Regions from separate parts of the Homo sapiens genome. Here all the other regions are linked to region 3. Evidence: fine-mapped expression QTL. A gene starts in region 3. Each other region holds a variant in brackets. All regions are shown on one strand. Distances are between the middles of the regions. Region 1 overlaps FXYD6-FXYD2 (FXYD6-FXYD2 readthrough). Region 2 overlaps FXYD6-FXYD2 (FXYD6-FXYD2 readthrough). Region 3 holds the start of FXYD6 (FXYD domain containing ion transport regulator 6). Region 4 has its middle 13 kb from the start of FXYD2.

Region 1 (4,160 bases), 34 kb after region 3:
ATTTTGCATAACTGAAATTTTATATCTGTTGATTGGCAGCTTTTTAGAAGAAGAGCAAGGGAATGATTAAAAATATGTATTTTCAGCCAGGCGCGGTGGCTCACGCCTGTAATTCCAGCGCTCTGGGAGGCCGAGGTGGGTGGATCACCTGAGGTCAGAAGTTTGAGCCTGACCAACATGGTGAAACCCTGTCTCTACTAAAAATACAAAAAATTAGCTGGGTGTGGTGGTGCATGCCTGTAATCCAAACTCCTTGGGAGGCAGAAGCAGGAGAATCGTTTGAACCCGGGAGGTGGAAGTTGCAGTGAGCCGAGATCGCACCATTGCATTCTAGCCTGGGCGACACAGGGAGACTCAGTCTCAAAATAAATAAATAAATAAATAAAAATAAAAATATATATTTTTGGGATACTGGCCACCTCTGGGAGAGAGGCAGGGGGATGGGGTGGAGGGAAATAGAGGTCACTGCAGCAGTCTTTGTAAAGCTCCATTTCCTAAGCTGCTGGTTTATGGGTGTTTCTATTATTACTATGCCTCATTATATGTGTATGTTACATATATTTTTATACATATAAGATACAGTGTAGCATTCAAAGGAAATACAAGTGTGAAATGAGACAGCATTGAAAGCAAATTACCACCTTTTGATAAAGGCTTTTTGAATCAAGGTTTGGGCCTTGACGTGGCTGTGGATGCAGTCGTTCTGACCCCTGGTGGCCGAGAGGTGAAGTGCAGTGGCGGCTGCTTGCTCAAGGCCGGAGGAAGGTAGTGACCGTGCTGGGGGCAATCAGGGTCTTGGACTGGACGGATGTCCAGGGGTTCAGGCCACTGCCAGTTTCACCCCACATGGAAAACAGCACCCAGCCTTGGGCTTTCCTGGTTCAGGAAAAGCCTCTCTGTCTCCTCTCTGGCTCTTAACCATGCTCCTTTAAGCCCAGGAGTGAGATGTGTGTCCTGCCATTGAAATCTATCCCTGGGTGCCACCTCTTGGCCCTGCCTCCTGCTTCCACCAGGATAGCCCACCTGGGGCCATCCACCCAGAGACCAGGACTGATGAGCTCCTGAGCAGAGACCTCCGCATCCTCTGGGGAAGCAGAGGCTGGGGTGCTGAGGCTCGTGGAACCAGCCTTCAAACTCCTTTTGTAGAATCAAACCACCTTTCTGGAGGATTCTGAACCAAAGCCTGTGGGAAGAGCTGACTTGGGGACTTTTGAGGTGGGACGTAAAGGGTACCTGAAGGAGGGCTGTCAGCGCTTCAGGGCCCAGGAAACCACAAGTCTCCTCTCCACCCAGCTGGCTAGACTAGAGGGACACTGGTTTACTGGCCCCATTTAGTCTGATATTAAGAGACATTTCTGATGGGGTATTGGCTGTCAGAATGAACTAGGGATGGCCACAGAAGGGTGGCCTGGAGAGAAGGACACAGTTGAGATCTTCAAAGTCACGTCCCAGAGGCAACGTGGTGGAGGAGTTACCATGCTGGGTTAGGATCTAGGCCCTGCTACTCACTCTGGTGCATGTCAGCCTCATTAAGCTTCAGGTTCTCGGCCTGCGTTAGTTGTAGTGCTTGCTAATTGTACTAACTCAATTGTGCCAATTGAATTAATACATGCAGAGCATTCTCTAAGAGTCCAAGAAATGTCAACTGGTGGTGGCTCACGCCTATAATCCCAGCCCTTTGGGAGGCTGAGGCAGATGGACCACTTGAGGTCAAGAGTTCGAGACCAGCCTGGCCAACATGATGAAACCCTGTCTCTACTAAAAATACAAAAAATTAGCCGGGCATGATGGCACACGCCTCTAATGCCAGCTACTCAGGAGGCTGAGGCAGAAGAATCACTTGAACCTGGGAGGCGGAGGTTGCAGTGAGCCGAGATCATGCCACTACGCTCTAGCCTGGGCAAGATAGCGAGACTCTGTCTCAAAAAAAAAAAAAGTCAACTGCTTGTGCTTAGGTTGTTTGAACCCTCACCAAGTCATGAGTGCAGAGCAAAGCTGGGGATTTGGCTTGGCCCCTGGTCAGGCTGACGCTTGGAGCTGACGGATGGAGGCTTCTTAGCCAGAGAATCATTTTTTCCTCCCTCTGTCCCCAGACGCCATGGAGTTGGTGCTGGTCTTCCTCTGCAGCCTGCTGGCCCCCATGGTCCTGGCCAGTGGTAAGTACCCCTCTGGGACCTGGCTGTGACAAGATGACAACCCTGTCCAGCCCTCTCTGCTGGAAGGTTCTGGGCCCCTTGGGACATTAGGGCTGGGGGACTCTCACGTTCTTCATGTCTAGTCAGGGGCCTCTCCCTTCAGTCAGCAGAGAAAGTCGTGGAGGTGGCAGCTATTTATTCACAGACCTCAGCACAGCCTGCCCCCTCGCCCCCTAAGGGTCCGGCAGGGAGTAGTTTTTAAGCCCCGCAAGCTCACTGCGCCTCTGTGGATTTGTGGCCTGAACCCTGGGATTCAGACCTGCACATCAGTCTCTAGACCATATTAGCAAGTGCTGGCCT[C/T]GTGCAAGTCATATGTCCTTCCTTGGTCTCGGTTTCTCCGTGTGTCACAAGAGGAAAACTGACCCTGCCTTCTGGGGATGATGTAAGAATACAAAGGGGCAATGAATGTGGGTGTTGCATGACTCAGAGCCTCACTGAGTTTCGATGCCTTCACTGACCTCGGCCCTTAGGGTTCCCCTAACCCCCTAACTGGCAGGCCCGCCCTACCGTGCACCTCTAGGCATCTCTGTTTAATGGGCCCTGCTCCTCTGGAATTCCTTTGTGGAGACTGAGGTCTGTGAGGCAAGGTTAGATATTTGGGAACCAGTTTGTGTAGCTTTCTTTCTCTTGACCAACTGTTTGTTTTTGCAGCAGCTGAAAAGGAGAAGGAAATGGACCCTTTTCATTATGGTGAGCGATGGCAACCCTGGGTGCAGGGGTCAGGGGGAATGCAGCCCTGCCTGGCAGGAGGGGTAGGGGGAACAGACACCCTCTCCCTGGCCCCTTCCTCTCTCACCCTTGGTTCCTTTGGCAGATTACCAGACCCTGAGGATTGGGGGACTGGTGTTCGCTGTGGTCCTCTTCTCGGTTGGGATCCTCCTTATCCTAAGTAAGTTTGTTCTTTTGCTCACTCTGTTAAGAGCAATGACTGAGGCTGCTAAGCAGGTGGGGACAGTGTGAGAGCCTGGTTGGTCCCTCTCCTGGAGAGGAAAGGAGGCTGCCTGCCCTCCGTGTTATCTTCACGACCCAGTAGAGTGCTGGGCACATAGTAAGTGCTCAGTAAAACAGTGACACGGGAACAAAGAAAATGTCATATGACAATGAGCATAGATAGGAACGAGCAGGGTGGCTTCCCAGTGCTGTGTCTATAGGGCATGAATGGGGCAGTCACGGAGGAAGGAGACAGGTGCTGCCCTAGTGTGCGAGGGATGTGCCTCCGAGTTTGTTGTTCCCACATGAGCCTGATCTGCACAGATCCCTCTTTACTCACATGATCAAGAGGGCTGTGGGGGTGTAGCCATTCCAGCTATAGAATGTATTTCCTTTGCCCCAGAAGAAGCTACCCCATCCGAGGGCCACTGTGTGCAGCTGTGCAAACTGTGCACTGCCCAGGTCTAGGGGGTGCCATTTACATAGTCCCACAACCTGCACAGACCCTTGGCCCTGCTGTGGCCAAGCCAGCAGCATGACCTTGGATGGTTTCTTTGCTTTTCAGGTCGCAGGTGCAAGTGCAGTTTCAATCAGAAGCCCCGGTAAGGATGCCGTGGCAGTGGCCTTGGGGGGGTGATACTAGGTGGGACAGGAAGGGACCCCTGGTGTGTGACCCCCAAATGGGCATTCTCTTGGATTCTTGTCTCGGAGGCAGAACGTGTGTGTTGGGACGTAGGGCTGGAAGTTTGAGGACTGCCAGGTAGACTCTGGGGCAAAGGAGAGGTCAAAACATTGAAGGTCAGCCCATCCTGTCTCTTCTGATCTATGTGGGGGACGGGGAGTGGACAAGAAAGTACTGGAACCTTTTCTGGAGGCCCTTGGGACAGTTGAGCTTGGGAGAAGGGAAGCAGAGGGCTTCCTGGCCTCTCTAGATGCCCAGGTCCTCTCTACAGGACCTGCGACACAGTCCCCACTTGTCACCTGTTCATGAGGCTCTTTGAGCTGAATAGACACTTGGACCTTCTTTCTACTCCC
Region 2 (4,160 bases), 41 kb after region 3:
AGGCAGCCGAAGTGTTTTTAATTTAAATTATCCTCCTCCTCAGCCTCTGGAACCTGAGGCGGCTGCTTGAACCTTTGGATGCAAATGTCGATGCTTAAGAAAACCGGCCACTTCAGCAACAGCCCTTTCCCCAGGAGAAGCCAAGAACTTGTGTGTCCCCCACCCTATCCCCTCTAACACCATTCCTCCACCTGATGATGCAACTAACACTTGCCTCCCCACTGCAGCCTGCGGTCCTGCCCACCTCCCGTGATGTGTGTGTGTGTGTGTGTGTGTGTGACTGTGTGTGTTTGCTAACTGTGGTCTTTGTGGCTACTTGTTTGTGGATGGTATTGTGTTTGTTAGTGAACTGTGGACTCGCTTTCCCAGGCAGGGGCTGAGCCACATGGCCATCTGCTCCTCCCTGCCCCCGTGGCCCTCCATCACCTTCTGCTCCTAGGAGGCTGCTTGTTGCCCGAGACCAGCCCCCTCCCCTGATTTAGGGATGCGTAGGGTAAGAGCACGGGCAGTGGTCTTCAGTCGTCTTGGGACCTGGGAAGGTTTGCAGCACTTTGTCATCATTCTTCATGGACTCCTTTCACTCCTTTAACAAAAACCTTGCTTCCTTATCCCACCTGATCCCAGTCTGAAGGTCTCTTAGCAACTGGAGATACAAAGCAAGGAGCTGGTGAGCCCAGCGTTGACGTCAGGCAGGCTATGCCCTTCCGTGGTTAATTTCTTCCCAGGGGCTTCCACGAGGAGTCCCCATCTGCCCCGCCCCTTCACAGAGCGCCCGGGGATTCCAGGCCCAGGGCTTCTACTCTGCCCCTGGGGAATGTGTCCCCTGCATATCTTCTCAGCAATAACTCCATGGGCTCTGGGACCCTACCCCTTCCAACCTTCCCTGCTTCTGAGACTTCAATCTACAGCCCAGCTCATCCAGATGCAGACTACAGTCCCTGCAATTGGGTCTCTGGCAGGCAATAGTTGAAGGACTCCTGTTCCGTTGGGGCCAGCACACCGGGATGGATGGAGGGAGAGCAGAGGCCTTTGCTTCTCTGCCTACGTCCCCTTAGATGGGCAGCAGAGGCAACTCCCGCATCCTTTGCTCTGCCTGTCAGTGGTCAGAGCGGTGAGCGAGGTGGGTTGGAGACTCAGCAGGCTCCGTGCAGCCCTTGGGAACAGTGAGAGGTTGAAGGTCATAACGAGAGTGGGAACTCAACCCAGATCCCGCCCCTCCTGTCCTCTGTGTTCCCGCGGAAACCAACCAAACCGTGCGCTGTGACCCATTGCTGTTCTCTGTATCGTGATCTATCCTCAACAACAACAGAAAAAAGGAATAAAATATCCTTTGTTTCCTAGTGGCTCGGAGGTGCTTTCCTTTCTGTGAAAGAACTTGAGTGTTTGTAGGGTCTGTGGAACTTAAAGGGCTAGAGGGAGTCCGTCCATGGTCAGAGGGAAGAGGAAGGACTGGATAGCCACCCAGGCAGGCACAGAGCCCCGTCAGCTGCTGTCACTGTTGCCTCCTCCCCGCTTCTCTTCCCTCCTTTCCTTTTCTTCCTTCACTTTCCTCTCCTCCTGCTCAGCCCTTCGTCCCGCACCTTCCCGCCATTTCTATTCCTCCCTCCCTCTCTCCCGCCTTCCCAGGCCACTGGGCTCAAGCCACATCCCATAGCAGGACCTGTACATTGCACACTGTCTTGGAGCAAAAAAGGGAGTCACAATGGCTTCTCCAAGTACTCAGTGGCCTGGAGTAAAACATCCTAACATTTCTCTTTGGTCAGTTCTGGGGCCACTACCTAAGGACTTGTAAAGAGAGCCAGGGGTGGTGACTCATACCTGTAATTCCAGCAACTTGGGAGCCTAAAGCAGGAGAATTGCTTGAGGCCAGGAGTTCAAGACCAGCTGGGCAACATGGTGAAATCTTAGCTGGGCATGGTGGCTCGCACCTGTTGTCACAGCTACTCGGCAGGCTGAGGCAGGAGGATTGCTTGAACCCTGGAGTTCCAGGTTGCAGTGAACCGTGATTGCACCACTGCACTCCAGCCTGGGCAACAGAATGAGACCTTGTCTCTAAAAAGAAAAAAGGAAGGAAGGGATCAAGGGAGTGACAG[G/C]GTGGGTGACGTGGATTGTGAAATACCCCTCCTCTGTGGAGCCTCCCTGGGCATTAGGTAGAATCGAATCCCTTTTTTTTTTTTTTTTTTTTTTTGAGATGGAGTTTTGCTCTTGTCGCCCAGGCTGGAGTGCAGTGGCGTTATCTTGGCCCACTGCAACCTCTGCCTTCTGAGTTCAAGCGATTCTCCTGCCTCAGCCTCCTGAGCAGCTGAGATTACAGGTGCCTTCCACCATACCCGGCTAATTTTTATATTTTTAGTAGAGACGGGATTTCTTCATGTTGTCCAAGCTGGTCTCGAACTTTTGGCCTCAAGTGATCTGCCTGCCTCAGCCTCCCAAATTGTTGGGATTAGAGGCGTGAGCCACAGCGCCCAGCCGAATCCCTTTCTTGTGCCCCAATCACACTTGTTTGCTGCCTTTATATTCACACTTCATACTTGGCATCCAGACTGTAGAGACCAGGCAGGTAATGCCAATATGTGAATCTGCTGGAGTGACGATGGGGCATGGCACCTGCAGTCACCTACGGTGTCCTCCCAAAGACACTCTGACTCAACTTTCTAAAAACCACTGTTGGCCAAACCAACACAGATGTGGGCAGATTCTGCGTGGAGGTTGCCTGTGTGCAGCTTCTGCCTCTAGTGTTTTGTGTCTTTATTGATACAATTCCTGGAGGGCAAGGACTGTGCCTGCTCTACAGAAGCCTGGAACATCTTAGGGTCTTGAAAAAAGAATCGACCCCTGGAACGTCTTAATATCTTCCATCTTGAAGCCAGCACTTAAGGAGCGGGACCCTCTGGGCCCACCTCCTTCCAGCCCCAACTTCTAAGACCCCAGTGAACCTGGCACCTGAAGCTATAGCAGGAGACAGAAGTCAGTGCTCCTTGTGGTTTCGATGGGCCTGGGAACCACCACCTTCCCTGCCCAGTGGCCACACAGGCCCTGAGTCCGCCTGGATTCCGCAAGTTGTTTAGAACCGAAGAACCGCACAGATCCGCTTGCTCGGTGCCTTCTCTACGTGTGCTCTTGCTTCTGCCTTCGGTCCCCCAGGCCTTTGGAAAGACACAGGCTTATGGTAGAGCTCAAGCTCAACCTGTCAACCCAGTGATCATGGCGATTAAAAACTATCTGGTCACAGCAAGACCTGGTAAATGAGCTTATTGTTCGGGAACACTCGTGATACATCAGGGAATTGACAGGCCTTGCAGAAATTTCATAGCGAGGCCAGGCTGAGATCCCTAGAGGCCCTAGACATGCAAAGCTTTGTGTGTGCCGCCCCCCATACGTTAGTAAAAACAGAACATTATACTTCGACATAGGAATAAGGAAGTCCAATGAGGAGGTTCTAATTTTTCTCATAATAATTATGTTAAGAGTAAGGAATGATGGTCAGCATCTCTAGCACATCATCTACAAATGGTTATCCTTACTTTGCCCGCCTCTAAGCACTCACTTAGTTTTCCTCCTAGTAATCCAGCTATATTCTGAGATTGGTCAGAGATACAATCGTCCTGGTCCAGGTTACACAGCTGGGGGATGGAGGAGCTAGGACTTGACCCCGGGCTGTCTGTCCATAGTGCTTGTCAGCACATGGCCTAGCCTCCTTCAGCAGGCAGATGCTCAGAAGAAGGGACAGTGATCAGATGGCTCCCAAGACTGCACCTGGAGCATGGCTGCCCCTTCAAGACATAAACTAGCTGGACCATGCTCCAAGGAGCCTCCTGTGGGAGTCTAATGGTCTGGAAACAAGACACATGAAGAACAATCGAAGAAATGATGGTCAAAATGGTAATAATTAAAAAAAATGAGCAGCTGAAGTTTATGGAGCACTTACTATGTGCTTGTTTGAGGACTTCACACAGATGAGCTGGATCAGAACTCAGAGTGCTATATATCTCCATGAGGAGGACCAGGAGTGTCCACTCAGCCTCCAGGCATGTGGCACTGGTTTGTAGCTGTGATTTGGTTTAATGAGGCAATGTAGCTTGACTGAATAAGAAGGACAGCTGCCATGCTGTGTCATTTCCCAGAAGGGAATCCCAAGTTCCCTGTCTCAGTAACCTCAG
Region 3 (4,160 bases):
TGGGCCAGTCCCACCCTGGCTCCTTTCACACCATGCCCCTTCTGCCTCAGGGCCTTTGCACATACTGCTTCTGTTCCAGAGGCAGAATCATCTTCCCACCCTGACATCCCAATTCTTGGCTCCTTTACCTCATCTTCTTAACATCTCCTGACCTTTCTCAAATGCTATATCTTCAGGGCTCTGAACTGTGTTTTAATTACACGTTTATTCATGGGAACATTTGCTAAATCTCTATCTCACCCAGGGACCACATCTTTCCTCTCCACAGTATATCCTCAGATCTTGGCCCAGGTCTCAGTGAAGAGTAGCTCCTCCTGTCCATACGTGGTTGAAAGAATGGAACAGCTGGCGACCTCTTTTTATGAATGCCCACATTTTTCACAGGGGGTAGATGTGTTTATTTTCCTGCTAGAAGGGAGATGTGACTCACCCCAGAACAAGCTTGCGTGCTGCTTTGTAGCTGTAACACCCCAAATTCTTCCAGCAGTACCCTTGGATGGAACGTGATGAAGCACTATTTGAGAGTTAAGCCATGGCGGTTTCTCATGCACATTTAGTTCCTGTTATCCCTCTGCAGCCTGGGCTGGTCAGCATTAGGTAGGGGGACCTGGGAAGTCACTGGGCCAAACACTTCAGAACTCTCTGGCTGGAAATGGGGTTGAACCAGAAGGTGGCTTGGCTTTGGAGTTCTGAACTATCCTTTCCCAAATAGGCTTGCAAAGCCTGGGCTTGACGTGTCATCACTAGTAGGTGCTCTAAAAAGCACAGAGAGATGGCCAAAAGGCAGGATTCAAGGGCATTTGGAGGGATGAATGTACCTGCCTAAGGACATGGGCCTAGAAAGGGATGTGGTTTTAAATCTGCCACCTAGAATACATGAAAAGGGAAAACGACAGTTGGAATGCTGTCCTCAGTTTATAGAGGAAAAGACAGGAACGGCAAAGGGTTAGGCACGCAAATAGGCAAGATTTGAGTCTGGCTTTGGAGAAGGAGCTTTAGCATTCACAGGAACCCCAGGGAGTTCAGGACTGGGCCAGAGTGGCATCCATTCAGCCAGGTCCCATGATTAAGGGGCCAGAACTATCCCCTGAGGGGAGGCTTTTTGGGTGCTCTTTCTCAGTAGCTATTTATGGTTCCCCTACTGGTTCCAAAGTCTTCTTGAGTTCATGTATATTTCCTGCCTTGGGGTTTTGAGACCTGACCTTTTATTAAAATAATTAGATCATCTAGGGCAGAGCTGGAAGAGACCTCAGGATCATCTAGTCCATCTCCCTATTTTCCCAAATGAGAAAACAGGCCCAGAACTGAGGGCAGCAGAGGCAGGGCTAGGTTTCTTCCTAGCAGTACCCATCATCCCCGGCTTGGGGTTTGTAAGGAACTCTCCGTGGCCCTACCTAGGCTTGGACAATCACAGCCTTTCTCAGTAGCTCCTCCCTCCACCCGGCTCGGCCATACACACACCTTGACTGAGGCTGGACAGCCTCCATCTCAGCATGGCTCCTGGCTACTGACACTTGTGCCTGGCCTCTGCCCCTTCCTACAAGCTCTGCCCCTAATAGTAAGAGCCAATTTCTTGAGCACTCACTATGAGCTAAGCCTCCCATGGGGTCAGTCTCTAATCACCATTTTCCCACGTGAGGAAATAGACTCAGGAGCTGAGTGCAGAGATATGCTCCAAGTCGCGTCACAGGCAGGGTTGCCGAGCCAGGATTTATTTACATCTTCACATTCAAAGTTCGTCATCATGAATTTTGACTCTTGGGGACTGGGCTGAGGACGGGGTGGTACTGCTCCTGGCAGGGCCAGAGGTGGATGGGGCTTGAAAAGGGGGTTCAAGGCAGCAGATCTATGGTTCAGGTAAGGACCATCCCCCCAGCTCCCCACCTGGCTCTAGCTGAAAATGACAACTACAACTGGAGCTGGCTCCTGCGCCCACGACACAGCCATTCATGCTTTTGGTGCACATTCCCCTTAATTACCAAGGCTCCCAATTAACGTGGGCTGCTGTGTCTGGTGCTGGGTTATTTTCTCCTATTTTTCCGTTCCTCGGGGTTTACTATTGCAGAGAGACACCAGGTCTGTCATTGTGCCTGTCTTGCTCCCTTCCCACCCTAACCAGAGGGAAACCGAAAAGCAACAGCTGATGGCAAATCCGCTCCGGCGCTTGCACGCCTCCTCGGCGGCAGTCTCCTGTTGCTTCTCGGAGCTTGACTGCCCTTTGGAAAAATCTCTCCGCCCCTCGAGAGGAGAGAGGAGCAGAGGACGCGCGCGAGCACAGAGCGGGAGGACGGACAGGGAGAGGAGGAGAGGGGGTCTGCGCGCGGCCGCTACCCAGAAGCCAGCGGACGGCAGCACGGAGTGGGCTGTCCCCGAGCCCAGCCCCGAGCGAGCCCCCCCCCCGCCCCCGCAGGACGCGCCTCCCAGCCAGCCCGACTCCTAGGAGGAGGGGAGGCGGGAAAGCAGCTCAAGCCTCACCCACCGCCCTGCCCCCAGCCCCGCCACTCCCAGGCTCCTCGGGACTCGGCGGGTCCTCCTGGGAGTCTCGGAGGGGACCGGCTGTGCAGGTAGGCGGCTGGGGAGGTGGGCAAAGTTGGCTCCTTTTTCCGAGGAGGGGCGAGGCTCGGTGGGGACCGATCTCTGGAGCGCCGGGAGCGCCGGGTTTTGTGTGTTCAGTGGGTGTGTGCGGTCCTCCGCGGTCAGCTGCGCCGCGGTCCCCGCCTGGGCAGCGGGAAACCGGGCTGGGGATGTAAACAAGGAGATCGGCGTCGGAAGAGAGAGGAGCCTCTAGGGGAGGCAGGCTGTGGCGCTGGGGGTGACGCTGGTGGCTGGGAATTGCTCTCGGTGCTGCCTTGAGCTTGGGGTCAGGGTTTTCAGGAGAAGGGGAAAGGGCTGCGCCCACCCTTTATCCATGAGGAGTTTTCCCTTTGTTACTTGGAAGCTGTGGACACTTGGTGGAGCGTGGGGAATTACGGACGAGGGCGTGTGGCTGGGTGTGAGTGTGGACTTATGAGCGACACAAAATGGAACTTGCTGGTTTGGTGCTTGGGGAAGGTGGGGCTGGGCAGTGGGCACAGGATGGGGGCGCAGGGAAAGAAGGATTCTAGCGCTCGGGGATTCATGAGAGTGCATCATTTTTTCCCTCCTTCTTGTCTTATCCATCCAATCCTGTTTCCTTTCCGGGGGGCCCTGGGGTCCGCCATTGCCCCCTTTCCCCAGCAGGGCTGGCCCTGGCAGAGCCTCCCCTATTGTGTCTCCCGGGCTTCCGTGGAGAGTTGGGTGTGCAGCCTGGAGCTCCCAGCGCTGGCTTCTGGCTCTTACAAGTGGTGGCTGGTAGAGGAGGCACCCGAGGGTGGGAGCTGGGAGCAGCCTCGCTGGAAACATGGGTCTGCCGCGTCACCTGCTGCAAGCCTGCACGCTCGCGGGACCGTGGCTACTGGAGGCTTCTCCCCACCAGTGTGCTCTCTGCCACTACTTCCTTTGTCTCTGTGGCTTCGTGCTGTCTGGCTGGGCTAAGATTTCCAGCTTTGAAGATGGATCAGTGGGCATCTCAGGCCCTCTCTGAAAGGAGCCCCCTTTGGGGATCCAGCCACCCTCATATTATGGATGTGTATGTCTACGTCCGCAACTTAGCCTTTTGCACGTGACTTGCCTGGTCGTTGCCATGGAAACTCCTCCATTTCTCAGCCTCCCTCTTTCTCCTGCCCATTCCTCACCTCCATATCTCCTCCCCTCCCCCCAGTATGGTTGCCTAGATACTGGTTATCCCTGGCTAGGAGACCTAGATATCTGGCTCCTACACCCAATTGCAGTGGCCCCTTACTCACACCACCCACTTCACACACACTGCACATCACCAACACCACAAACACATACAGACATATACCACACTACGCAATCAACACACCCTCACACTCACACCACACATACATATACATCATACCTATACACACATACACACCAAACACACCGCATATATACCGCACCACCACACACCAGCTACAATGCTACACTGACACCCTACATGCGCACTGTGCATGCACACACACACACACAGTACATCTAAATAAGTCTCAGGCTGGGCTGAGGCAGGGGAGAGAGAGGGCAGTTTCCTTCCTTATCCAGCCACCTCCCTAGGGGTGTGGAGGGGAAGAGATGGAGGC
Region 4 (4,160 bases), 65 kb after region 3:
CTGGTGGGCAGGGAAGGGGGGTCACAAGGTGCTCAGTGGGGGAGCTTCTGAGCCAGGAGAAGGAAATTCACAGGGTTAATCACTCAGTTAAGGTGGGGCAGAAACAAATCACAATGGTGGAATGTCATCAGTTAAGGCGGGGCAGGGCCTTTTCACTTCTTTTGTGATTCTTCAGTTACTTCAAGCCATCTGGGCGTATAGGTGCAAGTCACAGGGGATGCGATGGCTTGGCTTGGGCTCAGAGGCCTGACATTCCTGCCTTCATATATTAATAAGAAAAATAAAACAAAATAGTGTTGAAGTGTTGGGGCGGTGAAAATTTTGGGGGAGTGGTATGGAGACAGAATGGACGATGTTTCTCCGGGCTGCTTCAAGCGGGATTAGGGGTGGCGTGGGAACCTAGAGTGGGAGAGATTAAGCTGAAGGGAGGTCTTGTGGTAAGGGGTGATATTGTGGGGTTGTTAGAAGAAACATTTGTCATGTAGAATGATTGGTGATGGCCTGGATACGGTTTTGTATGAATTGAAAAACTAAATGGAATAAGAGAAGGAGAAAAACAGGTATAAAAGGTCTAAGAATTGGGAGGACCTAGGACATTTAATTAGAGAGTGCCTATGGAGATTCAGCATAGTCCTGCCAGCAAAGATTATTTATTTACTTCAAGAGTTAAGAGTGGCAATTTGGAGATAGCACGAGGAGATATCAGCTGTGATGGCTTGGAGAAACAGTATAAACCGGCAGTGTAAACAAGAGCAGGGCATGTATGAGTAGTTGAGAACGGTGAATAGGAGTATGACTAGACAGAAGATAGTAGGGATGACAAGTTTTTTGGGGCACAGTCGAAGTTGGTCTGGTGTCTGGAATGAGACTGGGGCCTAATAAAAAGGAGCATCTATACAGGAGGTTAAATGGGCTGTACCTTGTAGCATTCTGAGGACATGTCTGACTTCTGAGAAGGGAAAGTGGTAAAAGTATTGTCCAGTCCTTTTTAAGTTGGTGGCTGAGCTTGGTGAGGTGTGTTTTTAATAGACCATTAGTCTGTCACTGAATACTAAGAGCCTGAAAAAATGCTTGGCTGATTTGACTAATAAAGGCTGGTCTGTTATCAGACTGTATAGAGGTGGGAAGGCTAAACTGAGGAATTATGTCTGACAGAAGGGAAGAAATGACTGTGGTGGCCTTCTCAGACCTTGTAGGAAAGGCCTCTAAAAGTATTAAAGCAGTGGCAGCCGCTGCACGCAGACATGAGGGCTAGGCTAAAACAGTAAGGTCAAGTTGTTTGCACAGAAAGGCTACAGTGTGCGGTCCTGGCTCTTGTGTAAGAATTTTGACTGCACTAACCATGCCTAGGAAGGAAAGGAGTTGTTGTTTTGTAAAGGATTGAGGTTTGGGAGATTAGTCGGACACGATCAGCAGGAAGAGCACGTGTGTTTTTACGAGAATTATGCCGAGATAGGTAACAGATGAGGATGAAATTTGGGCTTGACTGAAGTAATGGGGGCTGTCTGTGAAGCCTTGTGGCAGTACAGCCCAGGTAATTTGCTGAGCCTGATGGGTGTCAGGGTCAGTCCAAGTGAAGCGAAGAGAGGCTGGGATGACGGGTGCAAAGGAATAGTAAAGAAAGCACGTTTGAGATCCAGAACAGAATAATGGATTGTGGAGGGAGGTATTGCGGATAGGAGAGTATATGGGTTTGGCACCATGGGGTGGATAGGCAAAACAATTTGGTTGATAAGGCATAGATCCTGAACTAACTTGTAAGGCTTGTCTGGTTTTAGGACAGGTAAAATGGGGGAATTGTAAGGAGAGTTTATAGGCTTTAAAAGGCCATGCTGTAGCAGGCGAGTGATAACAGGCATTAATCCTTTCAAAGCTTGCTGTGGGATGGGATATTGGCATTGAGTGGGGTAAGGGTGATTAGGTTTTAA[T/C]GAGATGGTAAGGGGTGCATGATTGGTCGCCAAGGAGGGAGTAGAGGTCTCTTGTGGGTTAAGGTGGGGGAATACAAGAGGAGGACGCAAAGGAGGCTTTGGATTGGGAAGAAGGGCAGCAATGAGATGCAGCTGTAATCCAGGAATAGTCAGGGAAGCAGATAATTTGGTTAAAATATCTCGGCCTAATAAGGGAACTGGGCAGGTGGAGATAACTAAAAAAGAGTGCATAAAAGAGTGTTGTCTAAGTTGGCACCAGAGTTGGGGAGTTTTAAGAGGTTTAGAAGTCTGGCTGTCAATACGCACAGCAGTTATGGAGGCAAGGGAAACAGGCCTTTGAAAAGAAGGTAATGTGGAGTGGGTAGCCTCCGTATTGATTAAGAAGGGGATGGACTTACACTCCACTGTGAGAGTTACTTAAAGCTCGGCATCCGCGATGGTCTACGGGGCTTCCAAGGCAATCAGGCAGCCTCAGTCTTCAGCTGCTAAGCCGAGAAGGAGTCAGTCAGGGAGCCTTGGGCCAGAGTTCCAGGGGCTCTGGGAGTGGCTGCCAGGTGAGTTGAACAGTCCGATTTCCAGTGGGGTCCCGCGCAGATGGGACACGGCTTAGGAGGAATCCTGGGCTGCAGGCATTCCTTGGCCTGGTGTCCAGATTTCTAGCACTTGTAGTAAGCTCCTGGGGGAGGAGGTTCTGGAGGAACGCCTGGCCGCTGCAGTTCAGGCGTTTGGAAGTTCTTGTGTGCTGGAGATGTAGCTGGGGTTTGTCTCACAGTGGAGGTAAGGAATTGCAACTTTTTTTATTATTGTACACCTTGAAGGTGAGGTTAATTAAGTCCTGTTGTGGGGTTTGAGGGCCAGATTCTAATTTTTGGAGTTTTATTTAATGTCGGGAGCAGATTGGGTAATAAAATGTATATTGAGAATAAGATGGCCTTTTGACCTTTTAGGGTCTAGGGCTGTAAAGCTTCTCAGGGTTGCTGCCGAACGAGCCATGAACTCGGCTGGGGTTTTATATTTGATGAAAAAGAGCCTAAACGCTATCTGATTTGGGATAAAGAAAAAGGAGCATTAACCTTGACTATGCCTTTAGCTCCAGCCACCTTTTTAAGAGTAAATTGCTGGGCAGGTGGGGGAGGGCTAGTCACAGAACGAAACTGTAAGTCAGACCGGGTGTGAGGAGGAGAGGCGATAAAAAGATTACAGGGTGGAGGAGCGGAGGCTGAGGAAGAAATGGGACCTAGCTTGGTCTGGCGAGGAGGGGAGAGGTCAGATGGGTCTGTAGAAAAGGAAGATTAGAAAGACTCAGCGACGCTTGGGGTTGGGACTGAGGGGACAGGCGGGAGGGAAAGAAGGAAGATTTGGGACGAGTTGCACTGGGCACAGAGACTAGGAAGGGACTGATGTGTAAAAGAATGCGTGGACGTCAGGCACCTCAGATCATTTGCCCATTTTACGACAAGAATTATTTAGCTCTTGTAGGATGGAAAAATTGAAAGAGCTGTTTTCCGGCTATTTGGAACTACTGTCGAGTTTGTATTGGGGTCAAGCGGCATTGCAGAAGAAAATAAGACACTTTGATTTTAGGTCAGGTGAGAGTTGAAGAGGTTTTAAGTTCTTAAGGATACAGGCTAAGGGAGAAGAAGGAGGAATGGAAGGTGGAAGCTTGCCCATAGTGAAGGAGGCAAGCCTAGAGAAAAGAGTAGAGATACGGAGAAGGGGGTGGGGGTTTCTTGCCCTCCAGAAAAGCAGAGAAAGGGTTGGGGCACGGAAATAAGGGATTGGGGCACAGAGATAAGAGGTCGGGGTGCGGAAATAAGGGATTGGGACACAGAGATAAGAGGTCGGGGTGCGGAAATAAGGGATTGGGGGTTCTTGCCCCCTAGAAAAGCGGGACTTGCCACTAAGGGTGAAGGAGAAGGGGTTGAGGGGTACTTGCCCCTCCCCCAGAGGGCGCTGGAGTTTTGAGTCCACGGAGTTTTGGGTCCACGGAGTTTGGGTCCACGGAGTTTTGGGTCCACGTGTCTCCTTTGTCTCTATCAGAAAATGAAAGGAATTGAAATTAAGAGAAGGGAGAGATTGAAGTGTGGCGCCAAGATTGAAATGTGAATATGTATGTATGTGAATGTGTGTATGTGTGTGCGAATGTGTAAGTGAGTGTGTGAATGTGTGTGAGTGTGAATGTGTGTGAAAATATTTGAATATGTGTGAGTGTGGGAATGTGTGTATGTGAAT

The links.
Region 1: its variant is fine-mapped to the expression of FXYD6 in whole blood (TOPMed, PIP above 0.99).
Region 2: its variant is fine-mapped to the expression of FXYD6 in whole blood (INTERVAL, PIP above 0.99). The same link has a PIP of 0.9 or more in blood mononuclear cells and monocytes.
Region 4: its variant is fine-mapped to the expression of FXYD6 in whole blood (INTERVAL, PIP 0.97).

The regions. Positions count from the first base shown.
Region 1 is chr11:117,840,715-117,844,874 of GRCh38, reverse strand. FXYD6-FXYD2 (FXYD6-FXYD2 readthrough) reads left to right here. Exons shown (of 10, transcript NM_001243598.4): 2 at 2,094-2,156; 3 at 2,847-2,885; 4 at 3,010-3,084. The coding sequence starts at 2,099. It overlaps FXYD6 (FXYD domain containing ion transport regulator 6), which reads left to right. Exons shown (of 8, transcript NM_022003.4): 2 at 2,094-2,156; 3 at 2,847-2,885; 4 at 3,010-3,084; 5 at 3,691-3,727. The coding sequence starts at 2,099. Among named protein-coding and RNA genes, the nearest start is that of FXYD6-AS1, 9.1 kb to the right of the region's middle. RefSeq lists an enhancer at 1,964-3,163. The variant C/T (reference allele first, on the strand shown) is at 2,496.
Region 2 is chr11:117,834,161-117,838,320 of GRCh38, reverse strand. The region is part of intron 6 of FXYD6-FXYD2 (FXYD6-FXYD2 readthrough); the gene reads left to right. It overlaps FXYD6 (FXYD domain containing ion transport regulator 6), which reads left to right. Exons shown (of 8, transcript NM_022003.4): 8 at 44-1,340. FXYD6-AS1 (FXYD6 antisense RNA 1) reads right to left here. Exons shown (of 3, transcript NR_186291.1): 2 at 1,819-2,052; 3 at 2-1,153. Among named protein-coding and RNA genes, the nearest start is that of FXYD6-AS1, 2.5 kb to the right of the region's middle. The variant G/C (reference allele first, on the strand shown) is at 2,094.
Region 3 is chr11:117,874,996-117,879,155 of GRCh38, reverse strand. FXYD6 (FXYD domain containing ion transport regulator 6) reads left to right here and starts at 2,498. Exons shown (of 8, transcript NM_022003.4): 1 at 2,498-2,564. It overlaps FXYD6-FXYD2 (FXYD6-FXYD2 readthrough), which reads left to right and starts at 2,498. Exons shown (of 10, transcript NM_001243598.4): 1 at 2,498-2,564.
Region 4 is chr11:117,809,989-117,814,148 of GRCh38, reverse strand. It overlaps a transcript of DSCAML1 not described here. Among named protein-coding and RNA genes, the nearest start is that of FXYD2, 13 kb to the left of the region's middle. RefSeq lists an enhancer at 1-339. The variant T/C (reference allele first, on the strand shown) is at 1,929.